7 linked regions of the Homo sapiens genome follow. The protein of the gene in region 1 purifies or fractionates together with the protein of each later gene. This does not show direct contact. Each region holds a gene or a part of one and is shown on either strand. Other genes may lie near its edges.

Region 1 (3,289 bases):
GCTAAGGTGGGAGGATTGCTTGAGCCCAGGAGGTTGAGGCTGCAGTGAGCCATGATCACACCACTGCACTCCAGCTTGGGCAACAAAGTGAGCCCCTGTCTCAAAAAAAAAAAAAATTATAATGAAATGACATTGAACTAACAATGTTATTTGGAGACCTTTTGCATGTCATTTTGCTTAAAGTTGCAGTTTCTAAGAACCTATTGATGACATTAAGTGAGGACTTACTGTAACAAAACGACATTGGACAAAACGATGTTATTCAAGGACCTGCTGTACTTATCCTCGTGGAGCTGTCTAGCAGGGGAGATTGACAATAAACAAATTATACAAATATAAAGTTACAAATTGTGAAGAAGTGCTATGAAGGAAAAAAGTCAGTGGTGCTATTAGAATAAAGGGTCTTGAATTAATTGGGGGATCATGATAGACCTCTCCTAGGAGGTGCTATTGAAGCTGAGACCGGAAGGATTAAGTCCAGGCAAAGAGTGGGATGAGGAGCCTCTTAGGTGGAGCGTATGCAAGGTCTCATGCTCAGAAAGAACTTGGCTTCTTTGAGGACCTTTGGAGTATTTAAAGCCAGGAAGAGAATGGCTTAAGATAAGGTTGGAGAAGTAGGCAGAGACCATAGTGTATGGTTCCTTGAAGGCCATGATAAGGAGGATGGGTTTGGCCTTAAGTGTAATGTGAAGTCCTTGAAGAATTGTAGATAGGAAAATCACATCTAATTTAAACTTTTTTTTTTTTAAATGGAGTCTTGCTCTGTCGCCCAGGCTGGAGTGCAGTGGCACAATCTAGGCTCACTGCAACATCCGCCTCTCGGGTTCAAGAGATTGTCCTCCCTCAGCCTCCCAAGTAACTGGGACTACAGGCACGTGCCACCATGCCCGGCTAATTTTTTGTATTTTTAGTAGAGACAGGGTTTCACCGTGTTAGCGAGGATGGTCTTGATCTCCTGACCTCGTGATCCACCTGCCTTGGCCTCCCAAAGTGCTGGGATTACAGGCGTGAGCCACCACGTCTGGCCTAATTTAAACTTTTAAAAGGTTACTCTGATTATTATCTGGAGAATGGGTTGGAAGAAGGTGAGAGTAGAAGCAAAGAGGCTGGTTGGGGGGCTTTGTGGTACTCTAATAACAGAGGATGGTAACTTGGACTAAGTTAGTAGCAATGGAGATTGAAAGAATATAGATTTTTAAACTGCAATAAAAATGTTTTTATAACAGATGTAATTCATAAACCATACAATATCACCCATTTAGGCTGGGTGCGGTGGTGCGTGCCTGTAATCCTAGCGCTTTGGGAGGCCAAAGTGGGCAGATGGCTTCAGCCCAGGAGTTCGAGACCAGCCTGGGCAACATGGTGAAACCCCGTCTCTCCAAAAATTAGCCAGGCATGGTGGTGTATGCCTGTAGTCCCAGCTGCTCGGGAGGCTGAGGTGGGAGGATTGCTTGAGCCTGGGAGGCAGAGGTTGCAGTGAGCAGAGATCCCACCACTGCACTCCAGCCTGGGTGACAGAGTGAGACTGCCTCAAACCCCGTCCTCCCCACCCCCGACAAGTCACCCATTTAAACTATACAATTCAGTGGCTTTTAGCATATTCAGAGTTGTACAACCACCACTGCAGTCAATTTTAGAATAGTTTCATCACTCCAAAAAGAAACCCTGTATCCATTAGTAGTCACTCCCCACTTCTCCAGAACCTCTCCCCTGCCCAGCACTAGGCAACCACTCATCTAGTTTCTACTAATCTACTGCCTATTCTAGTTATTTCATACAAGTGAAATCATATAATACATGGTGTTTTGAGTCGGGCTCCTCTCATTTAGCATATTTTCAGGGTTCATCCATGTTATGGCATGTATCAGTACTTTTTTCCATTTAAAACTGACTAATACTCCATTGGATCAATATACCACATTTTGTTTATTCATTCATCTGCTGATGGACATTTGGGTTGCTTTCACTTTTGGCTATTATGAATAATGCTGCAATGAATATTGATATATTAGAGAATATACTTTAAAGGTAGAATTGACAGGAGTTGGGTCAATTACTGGGTGTTGAAGGAGAAGGAATCATTAAGGATGTATGTATTTCTAACTTGAACGACAACTGTATTTTTCAAAGCCACAAGAGAGTGTACAGGGCGAAGAGAGAAGAAGGCAATATAGGCTAAATGAGGGTCAAGCAGCTGTATAGAAAATGTGTGCTGACTCTAACCTTATACTGTTGAGGGTTACAATTTTAAAGAGACTGGAGTTGGTATTATGAGGATGGGCTTAGCATGGTGCTCTTGAAGTACAGGCACTACTCCCCACCCCCATCCCCACAAGGCTAGCGGAATTTTTATGTTCTATATATTCCCTTCCTCTCAGCAAATCACTTATCCAAGTACTGCTTAATACTGCTTTAAAACAATCAGATGAACAGTTAATGCCAGGATTGTTTTAGTACCCACCAAACATCTTTGTTTTCATCAATGTAAGTACAGTTGTATGCTGCATAACAACATTTTGGCCAATGACAGACTGCATATATGATGGTAGTCCCATAAGATTATAATGGAGCTAAGAAATTCCTGTCACCTGGTGACACTGTGGCCATCATAACATAGCAGCAGAATTACTTAATTTTTAAATTATTTTACTATAGCCTAAGTATATAGTGTTTATATAGTCTTCAGTAGTGCATAGTAATGTCCTAGGCCTTCACATTCACTCACCACTCACTCACTGACTCACCCACAGCAACTTCTAGTCCTGCAAGCTCTATTCATAGTAAGTGCCCTATATAAGTGTACCATTTTTAATTTTTTATATTGTATTTTTAGTTTACCTTTTCTATGTTTAGATACACAAATACTTAACATTGTGCTACAATTGCCTACAGTATTCAGTACAGTAATATGCTGTACAGGTTTGTAACCTAGGAACGATAGACTATACTATGTAGCCTAGGTGTGTAGTAAGCTATACTATCTAGGTTGGTGTAAGTATGTTCTATCATGTTCGCGTCATGACAAAATTGCCTAAGGATGCATTTCTTAGAACATATCCCCATTGTTAAGTAACACATGACTATATTTAGTATTGAGGAGCAGCATAGAAATGTAGCTGTAAACTTTATTTACTCAGAGTCCCTTATGTTAGTTCATTTATCCAAATTAGATTTAGTAGGTGTCTACTTTAAGCTAGGCTCTACAGGGAGCTATGATATGCTTATGATGTAGTCTCTGTCTTCATTTGGGGAGAAATTGGCAAGAGGGGTAGGGACTTAAAGGAATGAC
Region 2 (3,500 bases), on another chromosome or scaffold:
TTAGTTTTAGTTTTAACCTAGGCAAAAGACTTGAACCACATGCAGGGATTAAAAAGTAAGTCGAAATTAGAGAAGCTACTGATCAACAAAAGACCTGAATTTTCCATTTCAATTCTTGCCATGTGTTTGCTTTTTTTAAGTTGATGCTGGAATTGAACACTGTAGTGGGTGATTTTGAACCAGTGGCCACTTAGAAACTGCATGTCCTCAGGTAAATTATATAAAGCCTCAGTTTTCCCTATCTACAAAACTGGGGCACAACCTTTATAGTATCTACTCCAAAAGGTTATTGTTACCACTAAGTGAAATACAGTGTGTTTACTACGGAGGACAGCACATAGTAGGCCCTCAGAAATGCTAACCAGCATTATGTTAATATGCTGAAGTAGACTGAGTAAGGAAGTGATTAGTGGCTCAGTCACTGGATTTCTAATTACTCTCTTGCACTGCAACGAGTTGCTCTTGCTACAAGTACTTCTTAAATTTTGCCAGAGCGTAGAAATTACCCAGTGTGTTTATAAATATTCACACTCCTAGGTTTCTCCTGATGATTCTGTCAATAAATCTGAAATGGTTTCTGGGAATCTCTTTTTAATAATAGCCTCAGGTAACTCTTGTATCCAGCATGTTTAGGAAACTGTATTAATATATCTGAAAATGGCTTCATTTTTGTTGCTAGTAAGGGCTCACTGCAAACAAATGTAGTTGGGGCAAGAAGAAGCAGAAGTCTTGGTGAGGAAGGCTTATAGCTGTGGTAAACTGAACTTATTTAGGATTTTTTTCCCTGGGAAGTTAAAACTTTAAATACCTTATCTTTTCCATCAGCCTTCTTGTCAAGAAGGTAGGTTCTGAGCATTTTCCCCATCCTTACAATAGGGATGGTAATCTTGATTTGTCCCTAACATGGTGGCAGTACAGAGAAATGAATCCTGGGTTTCCTGTTCCTAGTGTAGGGTTTTTAATAATTAGACCAGAATGGCCATGTTTCAGAATCAGTATAGTGAAGGAGATGAAGTATGGTCATGTTCTTCATGTTTATCTGCATCAAATTGATGGTAAGAGTTTAGATTTTTTTTTTTTTTTTTTTTTAAGAGGGAGTCTCCAGTCACCCAGGCTGGAGTACAATGGCACATTCTGGGCTCACTGCAACCTCTGCCTCCCGGGTTCAAGTAATTTTCGTGCCTCAGCCTCACAAGTAGCTGGGATTACAGGTGTGTGCCACTGCGCCTGGCTAATTTTTGTATTTTTAGTAGAGACAGGGTTTACCATGTTGGCCAGACTGGTCTCGAATTCCTGACCTCCAGTGATCCGCCTGTCTTGGCCTCCCGAAGTGCTAAGATTACAGGCATGAGCCACCACACCCAGCCAGATTTTAGATTTTTGAGCTCTTCCTTCACTCTTTTTTGTTGTTGTTGTTGGAGATGGATTCCAGCTCTGTCGCTCAGGCTGGATGCGGTGGCAGTCTCCGCTCATTGCAGCATCTGCCTCCTCGTTCAAGTGATTCTCCTGCCTCAGCCTATCCAGTAGCTGGGATTACAGGTACCCGTCACCACGCCCCGTTAATTTTTTTATATTTTTAGTAGAGATGGGGTTTCACCATGATGGCCAGGCTGGTCTTGCCCTCCTGATCTCAAGTAATCTGCCCACTTCTGCATCTCAAAGTGCTGGAATTTCAGGCGTGAGCTACCATGTCCAGCCCTCTTCCTTCACTTTTTAAGGTTGTTTAACGTGCTGTTTAAGGAACTAAAAGTAGGCTGGGTGCTGTGGCTCACGCCTATAATCCTGGCATTTTGGGAGTCCGAGGTGGGCAGATCACGAGGTCAGGAGTTCGAGACCAGCCTGTCCAATATGGTGAAACCCCATCTATACTAAAAAAAATACAAAAATTAGCTGGGCACGGTGGCGTGGGCTCCTGTAGTCGCAGCTACTTGGGAGGCTGAGGCAGGAGAATTGCTTGATCCCGGCAGGTGGAGGTTGCAGTGAGCCGAGATTGCACCACCTCTCTCCAGCCTGGGTGACAGAGTGAGACTCTGTCTCAATAAAAAAAAAAAAAAAGAAAGAAAAAAAGAACTAAAAGTAGTAATTTGCTGTTTTTAAAGCTAAATGAGTAGTGACTTATTTTTTTATTTTTTTTATGCCTAGCATGCGACTGTCATACAGTATGTAGTATTACTTTCTCTTCAGTGTGTTGCAAAGCTCAGGCCTAGTTCTTACCCAGTGGATTTACAGTTTAAAAAGTAGCTGGATTATTTCCTTTAAAGACAGAAAGAAACTGTTTTCCATGATAATTTAGTTACTACTTTTTCTGTGCTTCTTTTTCTTACCCTATTTTGATAACTACCTTTTCTTGGTAACTTTTTCTTACCCTTTCTTGTTGAAAAGGTCTGTAGTGGGAGGACAAAATTTAGAATTTTCTCATATAGTGAAAGAAGTTATCTTTCCAAAGACCTACACAGGCAGAGACCTACACAGAGACAGCCAGCTGTCACAATAGCTAAATATAAGTGCTCTGCTTTATTTTCAGTTTAATATATGGTAATTGCGGTATTTACATTTTTCTCTACAGGGCTTGTTCTTGTCTTAGAACTGGAAAAGATTACTACCACTGACAGTATTTGAAGAACCTCATAGCATCTTTGGCTCACTTTTCTGTATGCTTTAGGCACTGTTCTGCCATTGGAATCCTGTGAAGTCCTCCATGGGGGGTGAGGCGGGGTGGGGAGGGGCAGAGCAGAAAAGGCCCAAAGGCCAGAGAATGTCAGGTTCTATACTGGAGCTCCCAAAGGAATGTGTGGGATGCTGAAGAGGGTTACAGTGACAGAAAAGGACTAATGGTCCTGGCTCTGAAATAGAAGAAGGAAGAGGCAGAGGCATCCCAGAATGCCTTTGGTGTCTCTTGTAGAGCACGGCATCTCATTGCCTTGGTGTGGGTCCTAGCTGATTTGTTTTCTGTGTGGCACAATTTATCTAAGGCTCTGACAGGAAATTTGGCAAATGTCTCACACTATTAGTCTAGGAGTTGTTAACATTCACGAGGCAGTCTGTATTTAGCACCCCCATCACTTTCTCATGCCTCTTATCTTGCACTAGTATATTGACCAAGCATTACAGATAAGAGCAGACCCTAGGCTAGGCGCGGAGGCTCACACCTGTAATCCCAGCACTTTGGGAGGCCGAGGCGGGTAGATTACCTGAGGTCAGGAGTTCGAGACCAGCCTTACCAACATGGCCAAACCCCGTCTCTACTAAAATACAAAATTAGCCTGGCGTGGTGGTGCATGCCTGTAATCCCACCTACTCAGGAGGCTGAGGTGGGAGAATCGCTTGAACCCGGGAGGTGGAGGTTGCAGTGAGCTGAGATCACATCTTTGCACTCCAGCCTGAGCAACAAGAGCAAAACTCCATTTCAAAAAAAAAAAAAAAAATAGCAGACCCCAATTTAAAGTGACCAGTTTTAGCATATCATCTGGGTTTTGTAACCATGTTAAATACCAGCAGGT
Region 3 (3,226 bases), on another chromosome or scaffold:
TTTTAGTAGAGACAGGGTTTCACCATGTTGGCCAGGCTGGTCTTGAACTCCTGAGCTTGTGATCCACCCGCCTCAGCCTCCCAAAGTGCTGGGATTACAGGCGTGAGCCACTGCACCCAGCCTTAAGGTCTTATAACTAGTAAATATCTGCATTAAAGAACGAGTTGAATGAAAATTCTGATAAATTCCTACTTAAAGTGTATCCAAAGAAAACGGAAAAAGTCTAGGAGTTAGTGATATTAGATTCAGAAGAATGAGCTTTGTAATTCTTAAAAATTAGTCTCAGAATAGAAAGGATTTTAAAAGTAATTGAGTAAAGTCATAGGAAATGTGACCATATAAAGGAATGGCTCTAAATGTATTAATCCAGAAGGAAGCAACAGGTTAAACAGTAAGAGGTAAGAAACAAAAAATAAGGAACAAGAGAGAGAGAGTGACAGGGAGAGAGAGACAGAGCGGGGAAGGAGAGAATGAGAAGGAAAATCAGGAAAACGAGGAGAAACAGAATTAAGGAGGTGATACTGGAATAGTATCAGACCATTCTGAATCAATTTAAGAATTGCCATGTCTAATTCTTATATGGAAGATTTGAAATACAAGGATATTGAAAGGAATAACAAATTATAATGAATGCATAGAAATCCTTATGTAATCCAAGGTCATTAATTTGAAGGAAGACATCAAGAAAATGTGATCTAGAAATAGAGGTTGAGATTGCTCCATTTACAAAATTATTATGCTCTATAATCTTCCCATATGCAAATATTTCATATTCCCTCTTTTGTCCCATGGACATATTTCACAGCAACAACGAATCAAGTGCTGACCTAAATGGGGTATCTGTTAAAACTTAGTATATTGATATCCTTCACCCCACTCCAGGAACGTTCGCTACGCTAGGACTGCATCTTGGGAACAGAATTTTAGAGATGATCATCTCTTACATCAGAAGCAGGATCTAAATGATCCCTGGATGCCCAATTTCCTGACCCTGCTATTGTTGTGGGTGGCAAGATAAGAGGAGTTGCATCACAGATGAAAAAGTAAGGCCGAAGAAGACCAGAGAAGAGTTGGTTGAATGTGTAGATATAAGATCCATCTGTGACATTGTAGAATGAAATTTCACCGGCTTCATAGTCCAAGAAAATCCCAATGCAGCGAGGACTTTCCAGTTGGAGAAGAGGCACTGATGGGGAGGCAAGGACCATGTACTCATTCCCTTTCAGCAGCCACAGGGCCCAGACCCCATTCTCAGGAGATGGCGTGGTTTCCCCCTTTCTTGGCAGTGTGTCTTGACAGACCCCTAAACCCCACTCTGCTCCTTCTCCCACCAGAACCTCCCAGTAATGCCTCCCTGATGAGAAGCTCTGCAAACCCAGGATGCAGGGCCATGTGTCAAATCGCTCAGGGTTGTTGGGGACATCCCTCCATGGTTCTCCATCCTGCACACTGCGCAGGTCGGCGGTCAAGAGCAGACTCGGGTGCGCCGTGGCGGGATCCAGCTTTACATCCACTGCGGAAAGAATGTGGTGGACCAGGTGAAAGGAAAGAAAGGACTGGTAGAAACTTAGGAAACCACTGAAAAGAATAGTCCCACAGTTCCTCACTTTTCTCTCTCTATTAACTCCTAGAGAAAACAAATCAGTATTTCACCTTACAGGTGAAATCTTCTTTATTACTTTATTATTCTTATTCTTTATAACTTTCTGGTATATTCCACTGTTACCTCTGCGTAACCCAGAACTCTTTAACTTTCCCAAAAAAAAACAACTATTGATGACGACAAACCAAGTGAATTATCATTTAGTTTCCTTTCATTTACATCTAAAGCATTTGTGTGTGTGTGTGTGCGTGAGAGAGAGAGAGAGAGACAGAGAGACGGGGTCTTGCTATGTTGCCCAGGCTGGAGTGCAGAGCTATTCATGGGCATAGCCGTGGTACACTACAGCCTCAAACTCCTGGACTCAAGCAATCCTCCCGTGTCTGCCTCCCCAGCAGCTGGGACTACAGGTGCACACCACCATGTCTGGCTTACATCCAAAGCATTTGAGTGCACTTAGGAGGATCTTCTGCATTTAACATAAAATTTATAAACCCCTTAGGAATTTTTTTCTTAAAAATCTATAGAATTTTATTAATATTAAATCCACTACTTCCAAAGTTATATTACTGTGGTAGGCGGAATTCTAAGATGGACCCCATGACCTTCACACCCTGGTGTTAGCCTCATGAGTATGTTACACTATATGACAAGAGAGAGATTATCAAGGTGCGTCTAATCAAATCCCACAAGTCCTGTAAAATCAGAAAGTTTTCTCTGGCTATTGGGTTGGTGGCAGCAGGAAAGGTCAATAAGATGTGGATTTGATATCTCTTTGCTGGCTTTGAAAATGGAAAGGTCACATGAAGAGACAAACGAGTGACCTCTAGAGCTGAGAGTGATCTCCAGAGCTGAGAATAGCCCCCAACCAACAGCCAGCAAGAAAACAGGAATCTCAGTACCGCATTTGCACAGAATTGTATTATGCCAACAACCTGAATAAGGTTGGAGGTAAGGTTCTTCCCCCGACCTACACAGAAGCCTGGCCTGGCCTGGCCAACACCCATATTTGGGCCTTGAGAAAACCTAAGCAGAGGAGCCAGCTGATCCCACTTGGATGTCTGGTCTTCAGAACCATGAGCTACTAAATGGTATGGCTTTAAGCACATAAGCTTGTAGTTATGCGTTATATAACAATAAAAAATACTGATACTCTGAAGTCCCAGTGAGATTGATGAGACATTTGACCCATATACATAATAAATAAATACATCTAGATATGAAACCTCAGTGAAGGGGGGATGTAAAATATTCAGTGCATTTCCTTATTAGCATTGCTTATAAGTAGTAAGTTAATAAATAATATGGTTTGGATGTGTATCGCCTCCCGGTCTCATGTTGAAATGTGATTCCCAATGTTGAAGGTGGGGCCTAGTGGGGGGTGCTGGATCATGGGTGCAGATCCCCCATGAATGACTTAGTGCCATCCCACTGGTGATAAGTGAGTTCTTTATCCGTTCATGCAAGAGCTGGTCGTTTAAGAGGAACCTGGGGCCTCCCCACTTCACTGCTTCCCTCTTGCCATGTGATACGCTGGCTCCTCCTTTGCTTTCCACCATGACTGTAGGTGTCCTGAGGCCTCACCAGAAACAGGTGCCAGCACCATGACTCCTGTACAGCCTACAG
Region 4 (3,500 bases), on another chromosome or scaffold:
GTTGACTTAAACCATTTTCTTAGGGAAGAAGAACTGAGCATATGCGAAATTCATTTATACCGCTCTGCTCCTAACCTGCCTCAGTGTGAATATGTGCTTCTTGACATTGTTGTGAGTGATATGTACTTGCTAGTGTAGTCTTTTTTTTTTTACATGGCATGATTTCATATTTACATTTTCCTGCATAATGACATTTTCTATACACTTGTCATTTTTAATAGCACTATAATTTTCCATCATGTTGACATCCTATAATTTACCTTGTTATTTCTTGATTGCTGAGCGTTTGGGGAGTTTCCAGTTTTTCTTCACAAATAGCACCGTGTTATCTTTAGATAAGTTCATTTTTTTCCCTTTATATTCTTGGATTTATTTCTCAGTGAAATCACCCATTTGAGCAGGAGTGGTGGTGCTGCTCTTGTCACATAGCACCAAACGACATTTCAGAAAGAACAAGCTGATGCGGGCCGTGCCGGCATCACTGCCCCCTCCACCACGTCCCCACCCTGGGACTTAAAAGATTTAAACTTTTTTTTCCAAGTTAAAAAATCTTGGCCGGGCGCGGTGGCTCACGCCTGTAATCCCAGCACTTTGAGAGGCCGAGGCAGGCGGATCACGAGGTCAGGAGATCGAGACCATCTTGGCTAACACGGTGAAACCCCATCTCTACTAAAAATACAAAAAATTAGCCAGGCATGGTGGCGGGTGCCTGTAGTCCCAGCTACTCGGGAGGCTGAGGCAGGAGAATGGCGTGAACCCAGGAGACAGAGCTTGCAGTGAGCCGAGATCGCGCCACTGCACTCCAGCCTGGGCAACAGAGCGAGACTCTGTCTCAAAAAAAAAAAAAAAAAATCTTGGCCGGGTACAGTGGCTCACACCACTAATTCTACACTTTGGGAGGCTAAAATGGACAGATCACTTGAGGCCAGGAGCTCAAGACCAGCCTAGGCCAACACGGCAAAACCCTTCCCTACTAAAAATACGAAAATTACCTGGGTGTGGTGGTGCATGCCTGTAGTTCCAGCCTCTCAGGAGGCTGAGGCGGGAGAATCGGTTGAACCTGAGAGGCGGAGGCTGCAGTGAGCCAGGATCGTGCCACTGCACTCCAGCCTGGGTGACAGAGCAAGGCTCCATCTCAAAAAAAAAAAAATCTTAAATATATACTTTAAAACATTGTCTTTTTTGCTTTAATTCATTGTTAAAAATAGTGTGACATTGAGGGCAAATATTTAAAAGAAAAAAGTCTCCTCTAGTACCTCTCCAGCACACTTACTTTGGTTTTTGTTGTTCCTGCACATCTGCGTGTGTTATTATTATTATTATTATTATTATTATTATTATTATTATTATTATTTTGAGATAGAATTTCCCTCTTGTCAGCCCAGGCTGGAATGCAGTGGCGCAATCTCGGCTTACTGCAACCTCTGTCTCCTGGGCTCAAGCGATTCTCCTGTTTCAGCCTCCCAAGTAGCTGGGATTACAGGCGCCCGCCACCATGCCCAGCTAATTTTTTTTTTTTTAATAGAAACGGGGTTTCACTATGTTGGACAGGCCGGTCTCGAACTCCTGGCCTCAGGTAATCTGCCAGCCTCGGCCTCCCAATGTGCTGGGATTACAGGCATGAGCCACCGTGCCTGACCACCTCCCTCGCTTTCTGAGCTTCCTTGTTTCTTTGCCCACTCAATGCCCACTGAGCATCACTTAGTGGTGTTTGGCGTTCACATCCCTTTGGCTGAGACGGGGTCACCCTCATTTTGGCCCCCAGCCCTGAGCACAGAACCTGGCACCCAGCAGGCATCCAATCCAGCTTTCAAGGTTTTTTTGTTCTGCAAGTGCTGGCTTGAGCAGATCCTTCTGGATTGGCCAGCTGGGATCCTGTGGAAGCCCCAGGGAATCCGTACGCCCCAGGCAAGCCACGCCAGTGTCCAGGGGAGTGACCAGCTTACTTTTCTCCCTCAGGACTTCCTGGGCAGATACCCAGTCTCCAGGCACTCCTGGGTGGGGGCCTGGCGAGGCCCCCAGGGCTGGCACTGGATCGACGAGGCCCCACTCCCGCCCCAGCTGTGAGTGACCACGGGCTTTTCTCCCTCCTCTGCTGTTCTGGATCCTCCATTTCTCCCCAGACTCCACCTCCTTGCTGCTCCCCTAGCCTGGAATGCCACTTGGAAAGCAGCCCACGCCCATGCTCGCGGCCTGGTGCCTGATTAGACCCTGTCGCTTCACTCTTTATTTGGGTTCCCAGCACGTTCACCCAAGCAGGGTTGTCACCCCCATTTTACAGATGCGGGGTCAGCTGCCCAGGGAGGTTTGGGGATTCATCCAGTGCCACGTGGCTGACCAGTGCAGTGACTCACTCAGTGCCCAGGCCGGTAGAGGTGACAGGCACACACGCTGGAGGGTCTGGCTGGGAAGCAAGGCCCCGGCACCCTAAACACCTCTCCTCTTTCCCCTCCCATCCTTTCCCAGACTCCCTGAGGACGGCGAGGACAATCTGGATATCAACTGTGGGGCCCTGGAGGAAGGCACGCTGGTGGCTGCAAACTGCAGCACTCCAAGACCCTGGGTCTGTGCCAAGGGGACCCAGTGATCTGGGCTCTGCCTGGTCCTCAGCCTGCCAGGCAGATGCAGCACCCCCTACAGGGGAGGCCAGTTGAGAGCTTGGGCAGCCTCTTCCTGGACCCAGTTATCCAGGTCTTCATGCTCTGCTCAAGGGGGCCACATGAGCGAGCCTAGGAGCTGGACTTCAACCCAGGAAGATGCATCCGAGGGAAAGGAGATTTTCTATGGCCTCAGGCCTGAGTGCCAATATTAGTCTCCAGCTTCTGTGGATGATCGGTTTGATGACATTGGGATGGTTGTTTAGCATTTCTGTGCCTTGGTTTCATTAAAATGACAATTTCCCCCTAGAGGAAAAAGACAGGGTTAACAACCACAGCGGATTCCAATCTGGGTTCTCATTCCGGCTCATGGAAATGAGTCTGCCGTTGTTCAGTGGCAGTGGGACTTGGCAGGGATAACGTCATTGCTGTGAATTCTACTTCAGGCAGCTGGGTGTACATCGGACACAGCCTACCGGCAGCCTCTGGAAAATTAACCAAGGAAAAGGAGCGGTCAGCCCTGGAAAGAGGGGAGAGCAAGGTTTTCCTTCCCCACCCTGAGAGTTGGCAAAGGGTTGGCAGACAGGAAGGTTCTGGGTGGAGATCCCGCATGTGGGCTGGCCAGCCCCTGGCACGCTGATGCCCAAGGGTGAGACAAGGCAGAGAGGACAGGGCCACCTGGCAGGAGAAGCCAGGAGAGCACCCCAGCTTGGTAGGTGGAAGCTGAGGAGTCTGAGTGAAAAAGGAAATCAGAGAAATGCAGGCACGTTCCAGGCAGCTCTTCTACCCACAGCTGCAGAGACGACCAACCTGAAGATGTCTCCATGCTGGGGTGCAGTGAAGACCTTCAGGCTGGAGGATGTGGCTGACAGAGTTGTGTAGTTCCTTGAGTCCAGCTAGACC
Region 5 (3,500 bases), on another chromosome or scaffold:
AATTTCCATACAACTCATTTTATTGGCTCTGTGTAGAATTGGTTTTCACACATTTATTTCACATATACTTCAGTCCGTTTTCCTCCTGTCCTCAAGACATGCCTAGTCAGTCAGTGCAGCCTTGAAAAGCATTGAAGTTACCATTGGCTGGTCTGTTGAGTCAAAGGCGGAGTTGTGATTGAGTTTAAGACACTTTGGGCCAGGCATGGTGAGTCACACCTGTAATCCCAGCACTTTGGGAGGCCTAGGCAGGTGGATCACCTGAGGTCAGGAGTTTGAGACCAGCTTGGCCAACATGTTGAAACCCTGTCTCTACTAAACATTCAAAAATGAGCCGGGTGGTGTGGTGGGGGGCGGCTCTCATCCCAGCTACTCAGGAGGCTGAGGCAGGAGAATCACTTGAACCCAGGAGGCGGAGATTGCAGTGAGCCGAGATCGCACCACTGCACTCCAGCCTGGTGGACAGAGCCAGACTCCGTCTCAAAAAAAAAAAAAAAAAGACACTTTTAAGGGTGAGGGGGAATGGAATTTATTAGGCGAAAAGAAAAAAAAAACTCAGCAAAGCCAGAGGGGTTCCCGTTAGCAGGCCCCCATCTCACAAATTGAATCTCGGGTCACCACACAGGAACAGGAGAGGCCAGGCTCCTCCCCCTTGCAAAGGGCCTGATCTTCCTGAGGCTCCACCCCTCCTCCTCCCAGTGGGCAGGCGCGTGGGGGATTCTTCTGGAACCTTTCCCCTAATCTTCCGGTTGCGTCTATCAAGATCATCAGGCATTAGATTCTCACGAGGAGAGTGCAGCTTAAATCACCTGCATGTGCAGTTCACGAGAAGGTTCATGCTGCTATGAGACTAATGGCACCGCTGGCCTGACAGGAGGCAAAGCTCAGGCAGTAATGCTCACTTGCCTCCTCTGTGTGTCTCTATTCCTGACAGGCCACAGACCTATACCCGCCCGCGGCACAGGGGTTGGGGACCCCTGTGGTAAGATACAAGTAGTAGCTATACTAGAAAGTGTTATGAAGGACAGATTTTTTTTTTACTGGAGACAGGATAAAACATTGACAAGGAAAATAGAATTCCATAAATGCCCCCTCTACTTGTAAACGATAGGACGTTTTTCCTAAACTCACATTTCAGTTGGACCTTAGTTTGCTTCCTGAGGGAGGGGGACAGTACACCCCCAAGGAACCTCTCCCATCAGTCCTCAGAGGTGATCATAACCACCAGCTAAAATTCCAGATTACACTTTCTTAAATATGGCAGTACAGAGAGTTAATGACTGATTATAAGATAGACTAAAGAAAGAGGCTTATTTACTGTATAGAAAACTAAAAATTTATTAGAAAATCTCCACAAGAATTCAGAAGAAACTGAGTGGTAGGTTGGAGAGCAGGACTAAAGATATGAAAAGGAGGGAGACTTCCTTTTGAATGTGCATTTGAGGCTCTATATTTAACAAAATTGTACTAACTTAGGTGTAATTTTTAATTTTATCTCTTTTGTTAAAAACTTTATTGTTCTAGTCCTCATCATTAATCAGTAATTTTAAAATCTTATTAAAGTTTTTGCCAGGTGAGCCTTTAGTTTACTTTTCTTTTATTATCCTTATTCAATATTGAAATATGTTACAGACCTTTCTCATAAAATGAACTGAACAGCTTTCCCTATTCTGTTTTTCTAGAACATGTTGTATAAGACAGGAGTTATGCAAAAGTGTGGAAAAATCACATGGAAAATATCTGAGCCTGGAGACTTGAGGGAGGGAGGTCTTTTTGGGTATCATTTCAATGTCTTTAATTTGTCTATTCTAGTTTCTGTGTTTTGTGCTAATTTTGTCATTTCATGTTTTTCCAAAAACCCTTTTGGTTTTGTTTCAAATGTATTAGCATATGGTATTTAATATTTTTATTATGCATTATGAAATATACATGCAAACAAGACTACATGTGATATGTACACATATGTAATATGTACACATATGTAATATGTCTGCTGTTGAAAAAAATAATAGTAAAATGAAGGCCCATATACCCCAAACCCATGTTAGGGCCACCATGTGTCCCCACTCCTCTCCTTCTATCAATTCTCAGCATTTTAAATGTTCTTCCTGTTTGTAAAGAAAATTTTTTTCTAGAGACAGGGTCTTGTTAGGTTACCCAGACTGGTCTCGAACTCCTGTCCTCAAGCAATCCTCCTGGCTCAGCCTTCCAAAGTGCTGGTATTGTAAGTGTGAGCCACTGCACTTGTCCTTCTTCCCATTTTTTACCCTCAGAACATTCTTGTCTAGTACATATTCCAGTCTCTCTAATGTGGGAGATTTTATTGTACATTCAAATTCACCTATCTTGACTATTATAGAAGGAAATTTTCTTGAAGGTGATTGCAACTTGACCTTTTTGTGTTGCATGCTTGTAGAACATAGACATTTAAATTAAATGATGGTGCATTGTTCAGTTTTCTGTGTGAATTGTATGTAAATACTATTCCTTATCCCTGATCCCCAAACTTTTATTATGTTCTGTAACTTTTAGTGTTTGTCTTTAAGATTGTTGCTTTATCTCAATGTGATTTTCTAAATTACTGCCTGACTTGTGATTGCTTGTATGAGGTTTTTGTCCTGTAGGTGATGCTAGCTAGAGTCACACCTCATTTTGATAGAAGGTAGAGAAACAACTGAAATTCTTTTCAGTGTGAATATAAGATACCACGTTTTATAATATTCTTCATGCTTACTTTAATGGTCTACATAAAAGCAGTTTATCTAAATTTTAGATAATAAGTAGATTGCTCTGCTTTGTTCTTAAGAAAAAGCAGAATATTCTATGTTCTCATAAAGACTTTCAGATACTTCTTGGAGTATTAATAATATTTTTTGAGGACTTATTTGCTTTAGCACTGTTTTTCACAAAAAATCCTAGGACAGCAGGTACCGTTGCAATCCCTATTTTTGCAGAGAGTAATCAGGATTAGCAAGATTAAGTAACTTGCCTGCAGTCAACACTTGGTAGGTGGTAATGAAATAGTAGATGGGGTGAGAATGAAACCCAGATCTGCTAGACTCAAGAGTTCCTAGAACTGTATTATATTGCCTTAGACTACTAGAGCATAACATAAAACCACAGATGTCAAAATTAACTTGTCTGATGAGTGTGAAATGAGGCACCCACTAATGTATCATAGTAATACATGCCTAAATATTTAATACCTTTAATTTCAGTCTGTGGCTGTGCCAACCAGTGTCGTCACAGTTACTCCTGGAAAGCCATTGAATACTGTAACTACCCTGAAGCCTTCAAGTTTGGGAGCATCATCCACTCCTTCAAATGAGCCCAATCTTAAAGCAGAGAACTCAGCAGCTGTTCAGATTAATCTTTCTCCGGTAAGCTCTTACTTGCACCTTACATAAATCTTGTTCCTTGCAAGTTCTTTTGAATTGTTTGCTCACTAACACTTGTGTTTGCTTATATTTACATTTTCATATTTAGACAATGCTAGAAAA
Region 6 (3,500 bases), on another chromosome or scaffold:
AATCTCCGCCTCCCGGGTTCAAGAGATTCTCCTGCCTCAGCCACCCGGGTTCAAGCGATTTTCCTACCTCAGCCTCCTGAGCAGCTGGTATTACAGGCACATGCCACCACACCTGGCTAATTTTTGTATTTTCACTAGAGACGGGGTTTCATCGTGTTGGCCAGACTGGTCTCGAACTCCTGACCTCAGGCACTCCACCAGCCTCGGCCTCCCAAAGTGCTGCATTACAGGCGTGAGCCACAGTGCCTGGCCTGCATCTTTGCTTTTCAAGGCTGTGCCTTTGAGCCTTTTACTGTGGGGATATAAAGGGTGTCAGATGAAGTTGAAGGGTCTTGACCCCAAAGTGAGGGGTACTTCAACATAGTAGTGAACAGGACAGGGTTGGGGGCTCATAGTGATATTGGGGACAGTGGCAAGGAGTGTTCCAGGGCCTGTGGGGATGCACAGTGGAGCAAGGAGGCTTCTTTAAGATCTCAAGGGAGCTACTGTAGGCTTGGGGGGTGGGGGACAGCCACCTTGGTACTGGGTGATGGGGAGGCACTGAATGGGCTTCAAGTACTCAAAAGCCTGATCTTCAGGTTTGGGAGTGAGAGTTCTGGCCCTGGAGCCCTGGCTGAGTGGGCACAGGGGGCTGAAATTGGCTCCTAAGAGCTGGGGATGGAGCCTACCTGGCAAGGGTGCTGCTGGATGGCATCAGAAAGATCCAGGTCACTGGAGGAGTCAGTGACCCAGGGGAGGACTCTGCTCCAGCCCTGCATGTGTGCACTTCCTCCTCGCTCTGAGCAGTTGTCCTCCTGCTGCCCCCTCCACAGGGATGACTCCGCTGAGGTGGACGTGTACAACCCGACGAGGAACGAATGGGACAAGATCCCGTCCATGAATCAGGTAAATTTTCAGGCGGGCCAGCATTGGAAGCACAGGCTGGTCCTGATTTTGCAACCCAAGTGTCATCGTGATGAGTGTTTGGGATCCACAGCCATGATGGGTGGGTCTCATCTCAATTAATAGAAGGCTGCTCTTACCCTTATTTTGCACTTAAGGCTCACTGAGACACAGATGTTAAGTAATACCCTATGATTACACAGCTTAGTACACATTTGAGCAGTGTTTATTGAGTATCTGCTGTGAGCCAGAGAGCAGAAGGAAGTGAGGGAGCAAGGCATACAGTCATCTGGGGACACCTGTTCCAGAGAGGGACAGCAGGTACAGAGGCCCTGCAGCAGGGCACCCTGGCGTGTTCTTAGATACACCAGCAGCCCATGTGGCCGGAGCAGAGTCAGCATGAGGTCTGTGACCTACCTTTTTTATTTTTGAGACAGGGTCTTGCTCTGTCACCCAGGCTGGAGTGCAGTGGTACAATCATGGCTCACTGCAGCCTCCACCTCCTTGACTCGCAGTCCTCCCACCGCACCTTCCTGAATAGCTGAGACTACAGGCGTGTGCCACCACACCCAGTAATTTTTTTTCTCATATGTAGATACAAAAGGATATTCTTAAAATTTTTATAGAGACAGGGTCTTGCTGTGTTACCCAGGCTGGTCTCACACTCCTGGCCTCAAGTGACCCTCCTGTCTCAGCCTCCCAAAGTGCTAGGATTATAGGCGTGAACCACCACGCCCAGCTGGTTCCTGAGGAAGTCAGTGTGGGAATACTTTTTTTTTTTTTATACGGAGTCTCGCTCTGTCACCCAGGCTGGAGTGCAGTGGCACGATCTCGGCTCACTGCAAGCTCCATCTCCCAGGTTCACGCCATTCTCCCGCCTCAACCTCCCGAGTAGCTGGGACTACAGGTACCCACCACCACGCCCAGCTAATTTTGTTTGTGTATTTTTAGTAGAGACGGGATTTCACTGTGTTAGCCAGGATGGTCTGGATCTCCTGACCTTGTGATCTGCCTGGCTCAGCCTCCCAAAGTGCTGGGATTACAGGCATGAGCCACCATGCCCAGCCCACTGTGGGAATACTTGTGTTGAGCACTTGCTGTGTGTTCTGAATAGGACAACCAGGGTCCACCCCTTCTCTCTGGGCTTGTTGAGAAGAGGGGTGCCCAGCCTGACAGTGATGGGACAGGGAGGCTTCAGTGCCATTTGGCCATGTGAGCAGTGTTAGTCTGAGGTACACATCATATTGCCTACAGCCTTCTTTCCTGTGTGTCTGTTAACATTTCCAAACCTACACTCCGTGACATCCAGCCTCACAGCTTACATCACAGCTTAATGTCCTGGCATTTAAGAGACCCAGCGTTCTGTTTTCCCCGCAGTAAGCTGCACATAGTCATAGCGAATTTGGGAAAGATGGAAGGAATCATCCAGCCTCGCGGTTCAGAGCCCAGCTCTGCCACTGTCAGCCATGCAAGCCTCAGTTTTCCCATCTGTAACATGGGGAGAACAGCACTGCTCAGCCCAGAGGGCCACTGCAGAGATTCTGAGAGAGAACGTAGGAAGCGCTGCTCGGCACGACCTGCACACGGGGAGGCCTGGCGCTGCAGCGGGCACCCTCATCACCATAGGGAAGGCCCAGCTGCCTCCGGGGAGGCCCGTTCTCCTAGGCAGGGTGTTGGAAAGGGGTTGGCCTCTCTGCTGCTTTCTGGGAGAGCCAAGGCCACCCCTCTGGGGTACTGACAGGGCATGCCTTGTCTCCAGTGGTTCCCCAGGTGGGGCCCTGCCCTACCCTCTCCTCTGACCTCCACTCACTCATCCCTTTGGCCCACAGGTACATGTGGGGGGCAGCCTGGCCGTCCTTGGGGGGAAGCTGTACGTCTCTGGGGGATACGACAATACATTTGAACTCTCGGACGTGGTAGAGGCCTATGACCCAGAGACTCGCGCGTGGAGCGTGGTGGGGCGGCTCCCAGAACCCACCTTCTGGCATGGCAGTGTCAGCATCTTCCGCCAGTTCATGCCCCAGACCTTCTCGGGTGGGCGTGGCTTCGAGTTGGACAGTGGCAGCGATGACATGGACCCAGGCCGACCCCGGCCGCCGCGGGACCCCGATGAGCTGCACTAGCCCCAGTCTGGCCCGGCACGGGCCTCGGTGCAGGTAACTGGCACCTCTGCGGGGCAGTGCCCCACTCCTTTGTGCACAAGGACACGTTGGGCTCACAGGAGGAGCACAGGCTCTTGGGTGGCGAAGCCAGCCCAGGATCCATTACCTGGAAGGTTTCTGTACCTTGAGAGCCTGAATCAGAGGCCGTCGGGAACGCCCTCCCTGCAGTTGAGGAAGAGCCACTTTCCTGCCAGCACATGTTTCTGGGTCTTGGAGGTCACCCCCACCCCGCGGATCACAGCTCACCCACGCGGCGCACACCCCTCCTGCCGTTGTCATCTGCACCTACTTGTTCCCACCTTGGGAGAGGACGATGACTTGGGAGGGACGCGTGAAGGGAGAAGGGGTCCTCCCATGAGGCTGAGGATGGCCTGAACCTGGAGCAGCGGACCAGGCAGACGGGCTGAAGTGGGGTCCCAAATTCCATGTCCAGAGGTGTGGGGAGCCTGCCTCCCT
Region 7 (3,500 bases), on another chromosome or scaffold:
TCCAGCCTAAGCAACGGAGCAAGACTCCGTCTAAAAAAACAAAACAAAACAAATCTCTCATATGACTGATGTGTTCTTAAAAATCTTGTATAATAGTACGCTAGGCTGAAACAAAACCTCAATCAAGTTTTCCATGTTTATCAAGATCATTTGATTAAACCTTAAAGAGGCAATGACATTTTAATTTAATTTAGTAATCAGCCTGAGATATAATCTTCAAATTCCAAGTCTTGGATAAATAGCCCATAAAAACATGTACGTCGTACAGAGACTGCATTTACACACATAGATTTTCTCATAGGTTAATGAGCATACAAATCACCTTGAGGTCTTGATAAAATGCAGATTGATTCATGTCAAGTGGGCCTGAGATCTTACTTTCCTAAAAAGCTTCCAAGTGCTACCCCTGCTGCAGGTCCATGGACTGTATTTTAGTTAAAAAGGATATACCTTGATTTCATCATTACACATTGTGTGCATGTATCAAAATATCACATGTACCCCATAAACATGAACAGTTACTATTATTAATTTTTTAAGTTCCTAAAAAAATTTTGAATTTTTTTTTTTAAAAGAATGAATGAAGGCCAGGCACAGTAGCTCACACCTGTAATCCCAGCACTTTGGGAGGCCAAGGTAGGTGGAGTTCAAGAGCCAGGAGTTCGAGACCAGCCTGGCCACATGGAGAAACCCTGCCTCTATTAAAAATACAAAAATTAGCCTGACAAGGTGGCGCATGCCTGTAATCCCAGCTACTGAAGGTGGCTGAGGCATTGCTTGAACCCAGGGAGCAGAGGTTGCAGTGAGCAATGATCACACTACTGTACTCCAGCCTGGGCGATAGGGCGATAGAGTAAGACTGTCCAAAAAAAAAAAAAAAGAGAAGACAGACAGACAAGGAAGATGGACGGATGGATGGACAGACGGAAGGACAGATGGAAGGAAGGAAGGAAGGAAGGAATTCTTCAATCAGCAGGAAGGGTTTGAGACAAAATTTCCAGTGGCAGCACTGTTTTGATTTTATCAAAAAAAGCTTTATCTCAAAGAACATATAGGGATAGGAATTATGTTTTGCAAAACAGGTAACTCAAGAGTGGCTTTAGTAATGTAACGGATGACAAGAATACATGTGACATTTTAAAATAAAATTGTTTCTTGTAGGCAAAAGTGTTTGCAGTCCTCCTAAAAGGTGACCAAAAAACCCTATTTGTGTCATCTCTTCGACAAAATAGTGGTCTACCTTATGCTCAGGTGGTCCTGACATTTGACCAGGTTATTTTTAGTCTCGTGTATTTTGCTAATGAACTAACCTTAAAGGCAGGTGTGTGAAAACTATATCTTACAATTAAAAAGAGGGATACTCTAAAAGGGAGAGTCAAACTCCAACTGTCTAAAAGACTGGACAAGTAATATAAATGATAAGGAGGCTAAGAGAAAGGACTTAATGAGAAGCTGGAATGGCTTAATGAAGGGAGAAGCACACGTGCACCATCAGCAGAGTGACACAGTGCAATAATGTAGGACCAGTGTTCCAGGATCTTCCTCTTTTTCAAGAAACTGGAATTCTTTTTTAATTTTTTTTAAATTTTTTCCCCCAATGTGGATAAAAACTTCAAAAATTTAAAGATAGTAAATGTTCCTAGAGACCATTAGGCTGTAATCTGTAATCAAAAGCAATGTCTACATATCGGCATATTTCATATCACTGAAGATTTCATATTTTAATTATCAGTATCTAATGTGTTGGGAATTGCCACCAAAATGGGTAACATAGCTTTAACAGGAAATGTTCTGTACAAATATTAATACATCACCTTTTCAAATGTCCAGTGCTTAGAACCTCTGATTAAACCAGCTATAATTTCTGCAACACATCGCTGGGTGCTTTCATGTGAATCTGCAACCAAATGTTCTAAATGGGGCTTCAGAACTGGCAGGAAGGCATCATCAAAATTCCTGAATATACCCTATAAAAACAAAGACTGTTCTTCAGTACTCAAATGACTATCATCTCGATTATAATTATGCTTGTAATTATTCTGTACATTACTAACGTGCTTAAAAGCTCCAAGCACACTCCCCTTTAGAACTGCTTTAACAATTGCGGTAAGTTAAAATAGTAAGAATACTGTCATTTTAAATATCACATTAAAATGTAACCAATGAAACAAACATTAATAATCTCTCTAAGTATCACACCTCAAAAAAAGCAACTAAACATAAAAAACGCATGCAGTTTTGGGTATTTTTTTTCCTTCTAATGCCAATTACAACAAACATTAAAGATAAATACAGTCATCCCTAGGTGTATGTGGGGAAATGGTTTCAAGATCCCCACCCCAAAATACCAAAATGTTCAAGTCCATGACATAAAATGGTATTGTATTTGCATATAACCTATATACATCCTCCTGTATATTTTAAATCATCTTAAGAGTACTTTTAGGACCTAATACAATGCTTACTAATTGTATTATATATTAATGCTATGTCAATACTGGTTGTAATGTCTTGTTTAGGGAATAACGACAACAAAAGTCTGTACATGTTCAGTGTAAATTCCAGTGCCATTTTAGATCAAGGCAGATGGCTAGCTTTGATCAAATATTTATAAGTTATGAACCTACGAACTGAATAGTTACTAAGCATTACAAAGAGGATATGTAAACAATATAGTTACCTTAAAGAGGCAAAAACGTCGTGGATTAAACTTATCTTTTCCTTTTCTGTCTTCTAATGATAGAAAAGTAATTAACTGCTCAACAAATTTAGGATCAGAAAAATGATCAAATATAATCTGTTCTGCCTATAAAGTTAAAAAAAGAACAATATTCAGCGTTTAAAATCCACTTAAATACATGATTCTGAAAAAGTTAAAATTACAAGATTTTGATAGTCAAAAGCAGGCTGTATTTTTGTTTCCATGAATTCTTAGTTCTCATAGACTACAGTGATTTCTAAAACCAAGTACCTCCCTCTAAAAATGCTAAAACAGGAAGTTTTCCTTCAGATTCTCAAGTTTGAATCCTATTTCTCACACTGTGAATTAAAAATCAACAAATGTTCTGCTTGGGAAATGAAGACTGAAAGCCACTGTAACACCTGGTGTGCAATTTGTTAAAATCCCCAAAACTATAAGTCAAGCCCCAACAAATCACTTCCATATTTACCTAACACCAGAAGTTAAAAGGCAAACTGTTCAGAATCAGAAAAAGTTACAATACCATTAACTCAAGGACCAAGTACATAAACTTAAAAACCCTTTCTCAACTTTCTTTTTTTTCTTTTCTTTTTTTGGGACAGGGTCTCACTCTGTCATCCAGGCTGGAGTGCAGTGGTGCGATCATGGCTCATTGCAGTCTTGCCTTCCTCGGGTCGGGTAATTTTCCCACCTTAGCCTCCCAAGTAGCTGGGACTACAGGTGTGCACCACTACGCCCAGCTGATTTTTGTATTTTTTGTAGAGACAAGGTTTTGCCATGTTGCTCAGGATGGTCTCAA

What was found.
Region 2: the proteins of TAF7L (region 1) and ARK2N purify together in Homo sapiens (affinity purification with mass spectrometry; 2 studies listed by BioGRID and IntAct, with this or other methods). This does not show direct contact.
Region 3: the proteins of TAF7L (region 1) and TRIM58 purify together in Homo sapiens (co-immunoprecipitation; one large-scale study listed by IntAct). This does not show direct contact.
Region 4: the proteins of TAF7L (region 1) and KLRG2 purify together in Homo sapiens (co-immunoprecipitation; one large-scale study listed by IntAct). This does not show direct contact.
Region 5: the proteins of TAF7L (region 1) and TAF4B purify together in Homo sapiens (affinity purification with mass spectrometry; 2 studies listed by BioGRID and IntAct, with this or other methods). This does not show direct contact.
Region 6: the proteins of TAF7L (region 1) and KLHL21 purify together in Homo sapiens (co-immunoprecipitation; one large-scale study listed by IntAct). This does not show direct contact.
Region 7: the proteins of TAF7L (region 1) and PSME4 purify together in Homo sapiens (affinity purification with mass spectrometry; 2 studies listed by BioGRID and IntAct, with this or other methods). This does not show direct contact.

The regions. Positions count from the first base shown.
Region 1 is NC_000023.11:101,271,046-101,274,334, reverse strand, and holds part of TAF7L (transcription initiation factor TFIID subunit 7-like), read left to right. Parts: intron 1-3,289. UniProt on the Homo sapiens protein: Probably functions as a spermatogenesis-specific component of the DNA-binding general transcription factor complex TFIID, a multimeric protein complex that plays a central role in mediating promoter responses to various activators and repressors.
Region 2 is NC_000018.10:46,243,534-46,247,033, forward strand, and holds part of ARK2N (protein ARK2N), read left to right. Parts: intron 1-3,500. UniProt on the Homo sapiens protein: AMPK substrate important for exercise capacity and skeletal muscle function.
Region 3 is NC_000001.11:247,874,187-247,877,412, reverse strand, and holds part of TRIM58 (E3 ubiquitin-protein ligase TRIM58), read right to left. Parts: intron 1,514-3,226; coding exon 924-1,513; 3' UTR 1-923. UniProt on the Homo sapiens protein: E3 ubiquitin ligase induced during late erythropoiesis. Directly binds and ubiquitinates the intermediate chain of the microtubule motor dynein (DYNC1LI1/DYNC1LI2), stimulating the degradation of the dynein holoprotein complex.
Region 4 is NC_000007.14:139,452,674-139,456,173, reverse strand, and holds the end of KLRG2 (killer cell lectin-like receptor subfamily G member 2), read left to right. Parts: intron 1-1,959; coding exon 1,960-2,063; intron 2,064-2,466; coding exon 2,467-2,587; 3' UTR 2,588-3,484; downstream 3,485-3,500.
Region 5 is NC_000018.10:26,271,445-26,274,944, forward strand, and holds part of TAF4B (transcription initiation factor TFIID subunit 4B), read left to right. Parts: intron 1-3,218; coding exon 3,219-3,380; intron 3,381-3,486; coding exon 3,487-3,500. UniProt on the Homo sapiens protein: Cell type-specific subunit of the general transcription factor TFIID that may function as a gene-selective coactivator in certain cells.
Region 6 is NC_000001.11:6,592,870-6,596,369, reverse strand, and holds part of KLHL21 (kelch-like protein 21), read left to right. Parts: intron 1-812; coding exon 813-885; intron 886-2,259; coding exon of another isoform or gene 2,260-2,262; exon of another isoform or gene 2,263-2,711; coding exon 2,712-3,005; 3' UTR 3,006-3,500. UniProt on the Homo sapiens protein: Substrate-specific adapter of a BCR (BTB-CUL3-RBX1) E3 ubiquitin-protein ligase complex required for efficient chromosome alignment and cytokinesis.
Region 7 is NC_000002.12:53,890,994-53,894,493, forward strand, and holds part of PSME4 (proteasome activator complex subunit 4), read right to left. Parts: intron 2,807-3,500; coding exon 2,681-2,806; intron 1,968-2,680; coding exon 1,815-1,967; intron 1-1,814. UniProt on the Homo sapiens protein: Associated component of the proteasome that specifically recognizes acetylated histones and promotes ATP- and ubiquitin-independent degradation of core histones during spermatogenesis and DNA damage response.